Linked DNA regions of Homo sapiens. The protein of the gene in region 2 interacts with the protein of the main gene of each other region in a pairwise test. Each region holds a gene or a part of one and is shown on either strand. Other genes may lie near its edges.

What was found.
Region 1: the proteins of RPL22 (region 2) and CT45A1 interact in binary tests that used the Homo sapiens proteins (3 or more experiments, as listed by UniProt).

Annotation. Positions count from the first base shown.
Region 1 is NC_000023.11:135,716,483-135,720,399, reverse strand, and holds part of CT45A1 (cancer/testis antigen family 45 member A1), read right to left. Parts: intron 1,466-3,917; 5' UTR 1,460-1,465; coding exon 1,291-1,459; intron 1-1,290.
Region 2 is NC_000001.11:6,197,608-6,201,524, reverse strand, and holds the start of RPL22 (large ribosomal subunit protein eL22), read left to right. Parts: upstream 1-1,929; 5' UTR 1,930-1,951; coding exon 1,952-1,963; intron 1,964-3,768; coding exon 3,769-3,873; intron 3,874-3,917.

The DNA.
Region 1 (3,917 bases), on a different chromosome or scaffold from region 2:
TTTCTTTTCACTCCAGGTCTGACACCTCTCATTTATTCATCGTCTGTGGCAGGCAGCGTGCCGGTAGCTGGGGATCAGCAGTAAACAGCCCAGAGAGCAACGTTCCCTGCCCTTCTGGAGCTCACATCCTCATGGGGCGGTCAGACAGTACGTGCACAATGAGCAAATGAAACATACAGTGTTGGGCTAGTGGTAAGGAAGCAGTCCACAGGCCTGTGGGCAACAGCAGCAGAGGGAGCCCCAGGAGCTGCTGCTGGTTGGGCAGAGCCTTCTGTGGAGGTACCCTTGGGCAGGGCTTGAAGGAGAAAGCAGAGCTGCCTGCGCAGAGGCAGAGGGGGAGTTCCAGGTTGCGGTGAGGCCAAGGATATGGGCTGGAGTGGGGATGGACCGGGCACTACGGGGTGAAGGACAGTAGCAGAGAGAGTCAGGAGATGATGGGGCCCGTGTGAGGAGAGGGTGACGGAGGCCAGGCCACGCAGAACCTCACAGACCAAAGCTGCTTCGCAGTCGGTTCTGAGTGCTTAGGAGTGTTGAGGATGGGTGTTCAGGAGCGACATGGCATCACGTGATTTACATGCCAACATCATGACCCGGCTGCAGGGTTGGAGGGTATGTGTTTGATGCGGGAAATAATGGGAAACATGGAGGTATCTCAGGAGCTCAGTGATTGATCGTGGCAGAGTGGAATAGAAGGAGAGAGAGAGATGCTGGGGTTCAGGAATTTTTTGCAGTATTTAGAGAAGAGAAGAAAAAGAAATGTAGAAAAAAACAATGATGGGGTCGGGGGCGGTGGCTCGTGCGTGTAATCCCAGCACTTTGGGAGGCTGAGGTGGGTGGATCACCTGAGGGGGGGAGTTCCAGACCAGCCTGGCCGACATGGCGAAACCCCATCTCTACTAAACTTACAAAAATTAGCTGGGTGTGGTGGCTGGTGCTTGTAATCCCGCTACTCGGGAGGCTGCGGCAGAAGAATCACTTGAACCCAGGAGACGGAGATTTCAGTGAGCCGAGATCGCGCCACTGCACTCCAGCCTGGCTGAGAAGAGCGAAAGTCCATCTCAAGAAAAAAATGATAGGGATTCACCAATACGGACAAGAAATTAAAAAAAAAAAAGATTGTCGGAAATGGAAATCCTAGAAGGTTTTCATGAAGAAGCGAGTGAACAACTGTCAAATGCTGCTGAGAAGTTAATGGCAATGTCAGCCGAAACTGTTAACCTTGACAAGGACAGTTTCTCTGGAGGGGATGAGGCAGGAGCATGAGGAGGACGTGAGGACAGGCTTACTTACTCTTTGCTTTGGACATGGCAGAGCCTGCAATAAGGCTGTCTCCTGCTCCTTGTTTCCTTGCCAACAGGGCCATCCTCTGCCTTTTCTGATACGAAGGACTGTCACATTCCCTGGGACGTTTAAACACAGTTTCAGGATCTACAGCCACCTTCTCTGTTTTATCGGTCATTGTTTCCTGAAAAACATCAATGAATATATTCTATTCATGACAAAAATCTAACAATCACAAAATGGCAAGCAATCTGCATATGTGTATACAACCAAGACTTTGAATCATTAATTTCACTTTTAATCATGAGCCAAGATTTACCAAGTCTCAACAAACACTCTGTTCTCAGGAAAAGAAACCTAATTTTAATGTACACAAAGTAAAACAGAAGAAAGATGGTATAACCAAATCAATCAGAATGCTTGTGGAATAAGCAGCTGTCATCAACCAAAAATAGATAAAAATATTATTACCTATTTGAAGATGTATAAGCCAATCTGTATTAACCCTTATTAGGAAAAATAGCTGTATAAACCAATCTGTATTAACCCTTGTTAAACATTATATTTTAAACTATATATTATACATTATATTATGCAAAATATGTATTTAATATATAAGTATTTATACTTATATATTCAAATAGATGTATAAACCAATCTGTATTAACCCTTATTAGGAACTCTTATTAGAAGATTGATACAAAACTGATAACAACATCTGACAAGGAATTTAGAAGAATGAAAAACTACAAGATCAAGCCAAAAATACAAGCCAATATCACCCCTGAACTTAGACACAAAAATTCCAAACTAAGGGTGAGCAAATAAAATGCAATAGTACTTAAAAAGGACATACATCATGGTGGAGTATATTGCAGAAAGGCAACATTGATTTAACATTTGATAATCGATAAATGTAATGCACCACATTAACAACAACAACAACAGCAACAAACAGGGAAACACCACATGATCATTTTCATACATGGTCAATGTTTAAAGTCCATTCGTGATAAAAACTATCACCAACTTAGGAAAAAGGGCAAGTTTCCTATTCTGGTTAGCATATGTACAAAAAATTTTTAAATGCCATACTTCATAGTGACGTATCAGTATTTTCTCCCTGAGTTTGAAAACAAGACAAAGATGTCCACTATCCATTCAACAATCTATTGGAGGTTCTAAAAAGTGCTGTAGCATCAGGAAAATACAATAGGTTTAAAATTTGGAAAGAAATAAAACTGTCATTCACAGATGACATTGTTCTGTACATAGAAAAATGCAGAAGAATAAAATCATTACAGTTAATAAGCAAATTTAGTCAACTTACTAGATATAATGAAAACCAATGGCATTTCTGTATAATTAATAGCAACAAATAATTAGAATATGAGATTTCAAATGTCATTAAAAACAGTACCAAAAACATCAAATATTTAGGAATAAATTTAATCAAGATGTGGTACAGCACTACACAAAAATTATAAAACATCACTCAGAGAAATTCAAGACTGCAGTAAATGGAGAAAAATATTCTTTCCATGCAATGGAAGACATCATTTTTTTTTTTGAGTCGGAGCCTCCCTCTGTCGCCCAGGCTGGAGTAGAGTGGCACAGTCTCTGCTCACTGCAACCTCCACCTCCTGAGTTCAAGCAATTCTCCTGCCTCAGCCTCCCGAGTAGCTGAGATTACAGGCGCCTGCCACAACGCCTGGCTAATTTTTGTATTTTTAGTAGAGACGGGGTTTCACTATGTTAGCCACACTGGTCTCAAACTCCTGGCTGCAAGTGATCTGCCCACCTCGGCCTCCCACAGTGCTGGGATTACAGGCGTGAGCCACCATGCCTGGCTGGAAGACATTATTAAAAGACATTATTAAAAGACATTATTGTCAAGTCTCTCAGAATGATCCTAGCAATCATATTTAAAATTCCACCATGTTAACAAAAGTTTTTCTGAAAATTCACAAGCAGATCATTTTTTAAGTATATGCAAATTAAAGATTTGGAAAAGCCAAGTTTTTTTTAAGCCAAGGAAAATACAAAGTTTTTTTTAAAGAAAAAGAACTAAGTTAGTAGATACGCACTACTATATATGAAATTTACTATAAAGGTAGAGTAATTAAAACAGTGTGGTACTGGAGCAATGACAGGCAAATACACCAAGGGAAGAGGACACAGAGGCCAGAAACAATCTGGAAATACAAAATACAGAAGAGTTGTAAATCATTGTGGAAAAGACAGTGCTTTTAATAAATGCACTTGATAAATGCAGGGAAAATACAAACCTTGACTCTTACTTCTTCCCACTCCACAAAACTTTATTAAAGATGGATAGACAATCTAGTAAACACTTAAGATACTGTCTTCACAACTATAGTATAGGCAAAGATGTTTTTAATGAGGATAAACAAGCACTAACCATAAAGAATGAATTGTTTAATTAGACATAATTAAATGGAAAAGTTCTGTTCCTCAAAGACACTATTAAGAGGTGAAAAACCAAATCATGTTTGTAGATTATACATTATGTAGTATATAGTATAGGTTATATATAAAATATATATTACTTACACACATATATACATATTTATCTGGCAACAAATGAATGGAATCCAGAATATATCCAGAACTAC
Region 2 (3,917 bases):
GCTGAGGTGGGAGGATTGCTGGAGCCTAGGATGTCAAGGCTTCAGTGAGCCGTATTCGCACCACTGCACTCCAGCCTGGGCAACAGAGCGAGAGCCTGTCTCAGAAAAAAAAAAAAAAAAAAGAAAGAAAAAGGAAAGAACAATAAAAGTCAACTGCTGAGAGGGAGGTTTAGGAAGAAGGGGCTGGCATTATGACTGAGGTGTGAAATAGTCTTTTGGGCCAGGTGCAGTGCCTTATGCCTGTAATCCCAGCAATTTGGGAGGCCAAGGTGGGAGGATCACTTGAGCCCAGGAGTTTGAGGCTGCAGTAAGCTATGATCACACCACTGCACTCCAGCCTTGGTGACAGAGCAAGACCCTGTCTCTATTAAAAACAACAAGAAAGGGAAATAGTCCCTTGGGGGAGAGATTTAGGATTGTCAGTAGCCCTGAGGGCTCGCTTAGGGTCCGTTATCAGCCAGGGTCCAGTCAAAAGACAACACATTATAGTTTTTAACTGAGAGAATTTAATATAAAGGATTGTTAACTAGGTATAAAGATGTGTTTAGGTAACTGTCGGGGTATAATACTAACAGTAGCAACTGCAGGAAGTAGCTACCACTGGTAGGTGGTATTATTAAAATGTAGATGCTTGAGGAGGGGCACAGGGAGGTGAAACTCAGACATCTGAGGAGAGGGTGCTGCTCTGCTAGGGCTGGTGTCTCTGAGGAGAAAACGAGGCTGGTTCTGCAAATGTTGGAATAAGTGCAGACTGGATTCCACTGCTGCTTCCAGAATGTTCCAACTGCCACCTCCAGGATAAAGAAGCAAGAGTGGATGACACCAGACAGGACAGGAGCAAGCAGGAAGCAAAGCCCCCTATTGATAGAGCCAAACCGGGATCAGCTGGAAAGCAGAAGTGTTTGCAGAGGCCCAGCCTGATCATTATAGAGCCAAGAACAGCAGCTGGCTTTGGAGCTTGGTCAACCGGCTTGAGGCCTGAGTTGAAAGCTAGACCCATCAGCACAGTCTCTTCTGGTGATTGGACTTTTGCTAGGTGAGTACACTGAAGCCAGGTAAAGGGAGTGGAGAGTGTGTGTGCCACTGAGTGATTTACAATTCAGGATCCTGGAATATAATTCCGTGAGGACGCAGCGGGTGACTGGGTGCAAAGTAGCCCAGTTCAAGGGACCTGTGGGCCTGGGGATGAGGACCTTTGCTTCTCCACATGCGGTCCATGGACTCGCAGCATCAGCATCGTCTGAGAGCTTGTGAGAAATGCAGAATTTCAGGCCACTGAGACCGCTGGAATTGGAATCTGCATTTTCCAGATCTCCTGGTGGTCCTCAACTACTTACTGGTTTGGGATGGGAAACTAGAAGGCTTGGGCTGGGAAACTAGGGAGTGGTGATCAGCGAGGGGGCGGCCTGGCTACAGCAAAAAGGACAGGCACTGGGAGACAGCCCCTGGGCATGAGCTTCCAAGCTGGGGCTTTTTGAGGAAGCCATAGTGGTCTGGCATTGGGACCTCTGAACGAAATTTCCCGGTGGCTACAAGGAATTTTCCCACTTCCCCAAATTAGTAGATTCGATTTCCATCCCACTAGCTGGTAATTTACAGTATAGTGAATTTCCTTATTTCTTTTTTCTTCCCAAGACTTTCAAAAAGTAAAGCCAACCCCTTTATTTATCTTTGGGCTCGTCCAGTCTGGCTTCCCCCCTCCGATCGTTCGCAGTGGGACAGCCCGCCGGGCCTCCTTCCTTCCCCAGAAACCCTCCAGGCCTGGGAGAGGACGCGTTTTGCATTCAGGAAAAACCAATCGCTCCCCTATCGTACATAACCAAGAGAAAAGGTGGCGGACGAGGGGCGTGGCAAAGTGATTAGTGCGGCCTGGACCCTGCGTGCCTTGCGCGCTGCGGGCTCTTTGCGTCTGCGTAGTTCGCTCACCTCCCTTTCTAACTCCGCTGCCGCCATGGCTCCTGTGGTTAGTATGGCTCCGCGTGAGGCCTCGGCTCCAGGGGAGGCACGTGGGCCTCGCCGAGCCCGGCATCTACCCAGGCTCGCTGGGGACGGCGCCCTGCAGCGTCCTGCTGGGGTGGGCTGGCAGGTCGGCCGGAGCGGGCCAGAGCCCCTGCCGATCCCAGCACGTTGTAGGCGGAGGAGGCCGCGGCCCGAGGCTCGTGAGGGAGATCCGGGAGGTCTCGGAGGCCCGGGGCCCCAGCTAGGGGCTAGCGGGGAGCTGGAGCCTGGAGACTGCGGTCTGGGCCGGCCACTGGTCCTCGGACCCCGGCCGGGGGCCTGATTACCTGGGTGGAGGGCGGGGAAGAAGAACGGGACCTGCTACCCTGGGGAGCCGCGCATTCGGAAGTCCACGGCCAAGACTCGGGGACGAATCCGCGGAAGGGCGGCTTGGTCGGCGTGCTTTCGGAGAGGAGGCCTGGGTTTGAGGAGCTTTTTAGCGTCCCCAGAGGAAATTAGTTTATCAGGGCGCACTGTACAGACCCAAACGGGTGTTGCAGTGGTGTAGGGAGAAGGCTCTCATTGCATTCTCCTTTAGCTATGCTGGGACTGGGCTGTGCGGCGCCCTCCTCCTAGGTTATTTGAGAAAGTTGTTTTTCCGTGTTCTTCGTCCCAAGATCCTACTTTTCCTCTTTTGTTGGGACTCCCTGGTTAACATTTCCGGTTCTTCTGCTCTTTCTGTCTGGTTGGGCTTTTGAATGCCTTTTGGTTTAAAACCTTGATGGAGAAGTATCAAGCCCGTTGTGGGTAGGTCTCTTGATTGATTGTGTGTGTTCGGAATAGATCTTAAAGTACCCCTCTTAGATTATTACTGCGAAGAGACGTTGTAAAAAATAAATCAGTGATTTTTGTAGTGGCCAAATGTTTGAAAAGTTGATCCAGTTAACACAAGTTTTAGATGAAGTTCTTTTAAACATGAAGGGAGGTAAGATGTGTTTTTGGAAAAGTCTATTTAGTTCTGCAGAGCTTTTAAACGTGAAAGTACAGGTTGGTACGATGCACAAGTGCATTAATGGTGTCAAGTTTGTAGAGAGATAAGATTAACACAAGCTTCTTCGTAAGAGTGAAGAAACTGGAACCTTGTAGGATGTGCTTTGCCGGGTGGTTTGGAAGTACTAATGCATAGATGAAGCGAATCAAAATGTCAGAAGTTCTTGACGGTAGTGTTGTAATAAGATTCTAGGTTTTAGCCTTAACCTTGTCCAAGCTGGAGTGGACAGGCACCTAGAATACTTTGCAACTCCCTTCATGAGAAGGTGGATGAGACAGGATTAAGGGAGATGAGCTAAGACGGATCAGGACCCTACTCTGAACATGTAGGACAAGGATTGATTTCATATGAAAATTGTGGGTATGCAAGGCATTTTGTATGCCTGCACTCTAATTTTGGAAAAATAGTATTTTTTTGAAATTGGGAATGTTAGGGCAAACAAAAGGAAGTGTTCATTTTATTGTGGTTCATAAACTAAGAGACCTTCATGCCTGTAGAGATTGGGGAGACTGGAAAGTTTGAGTGAGTCAAGAGTGCTAGAATGATTTCCCCATCAAAAGGGCATGACCCCAGGCCCCAAGCTTGTACAGCAGCATCTGCCCCATTATACCTCTGGCACTCAGGCAGTGATGCCTCTTGGCCCTCTGGCAAAGGGAGCACACTTCCGTTAGTTTTGTATTTGTATGGACTTTTATACCTATGACGTTTCTGGTTCTGTTAATCTTGTTTTTCCGACTGACTGAAACTTCATCTCTGTTATCATTTGTGTATTTTCTTAGAAAAAGCTTGTGGTGAAGGGGGGCAAAAAAAAGAAGCAAGTTCTGAAGTTCACTCTTGATTGCACCCACCCTGTAGAAGATGGAATCATGGATGCTGCCAATTTTGTAAGTTACATCCTTATTGCCACTCGGGTGGTCACGAACATTTT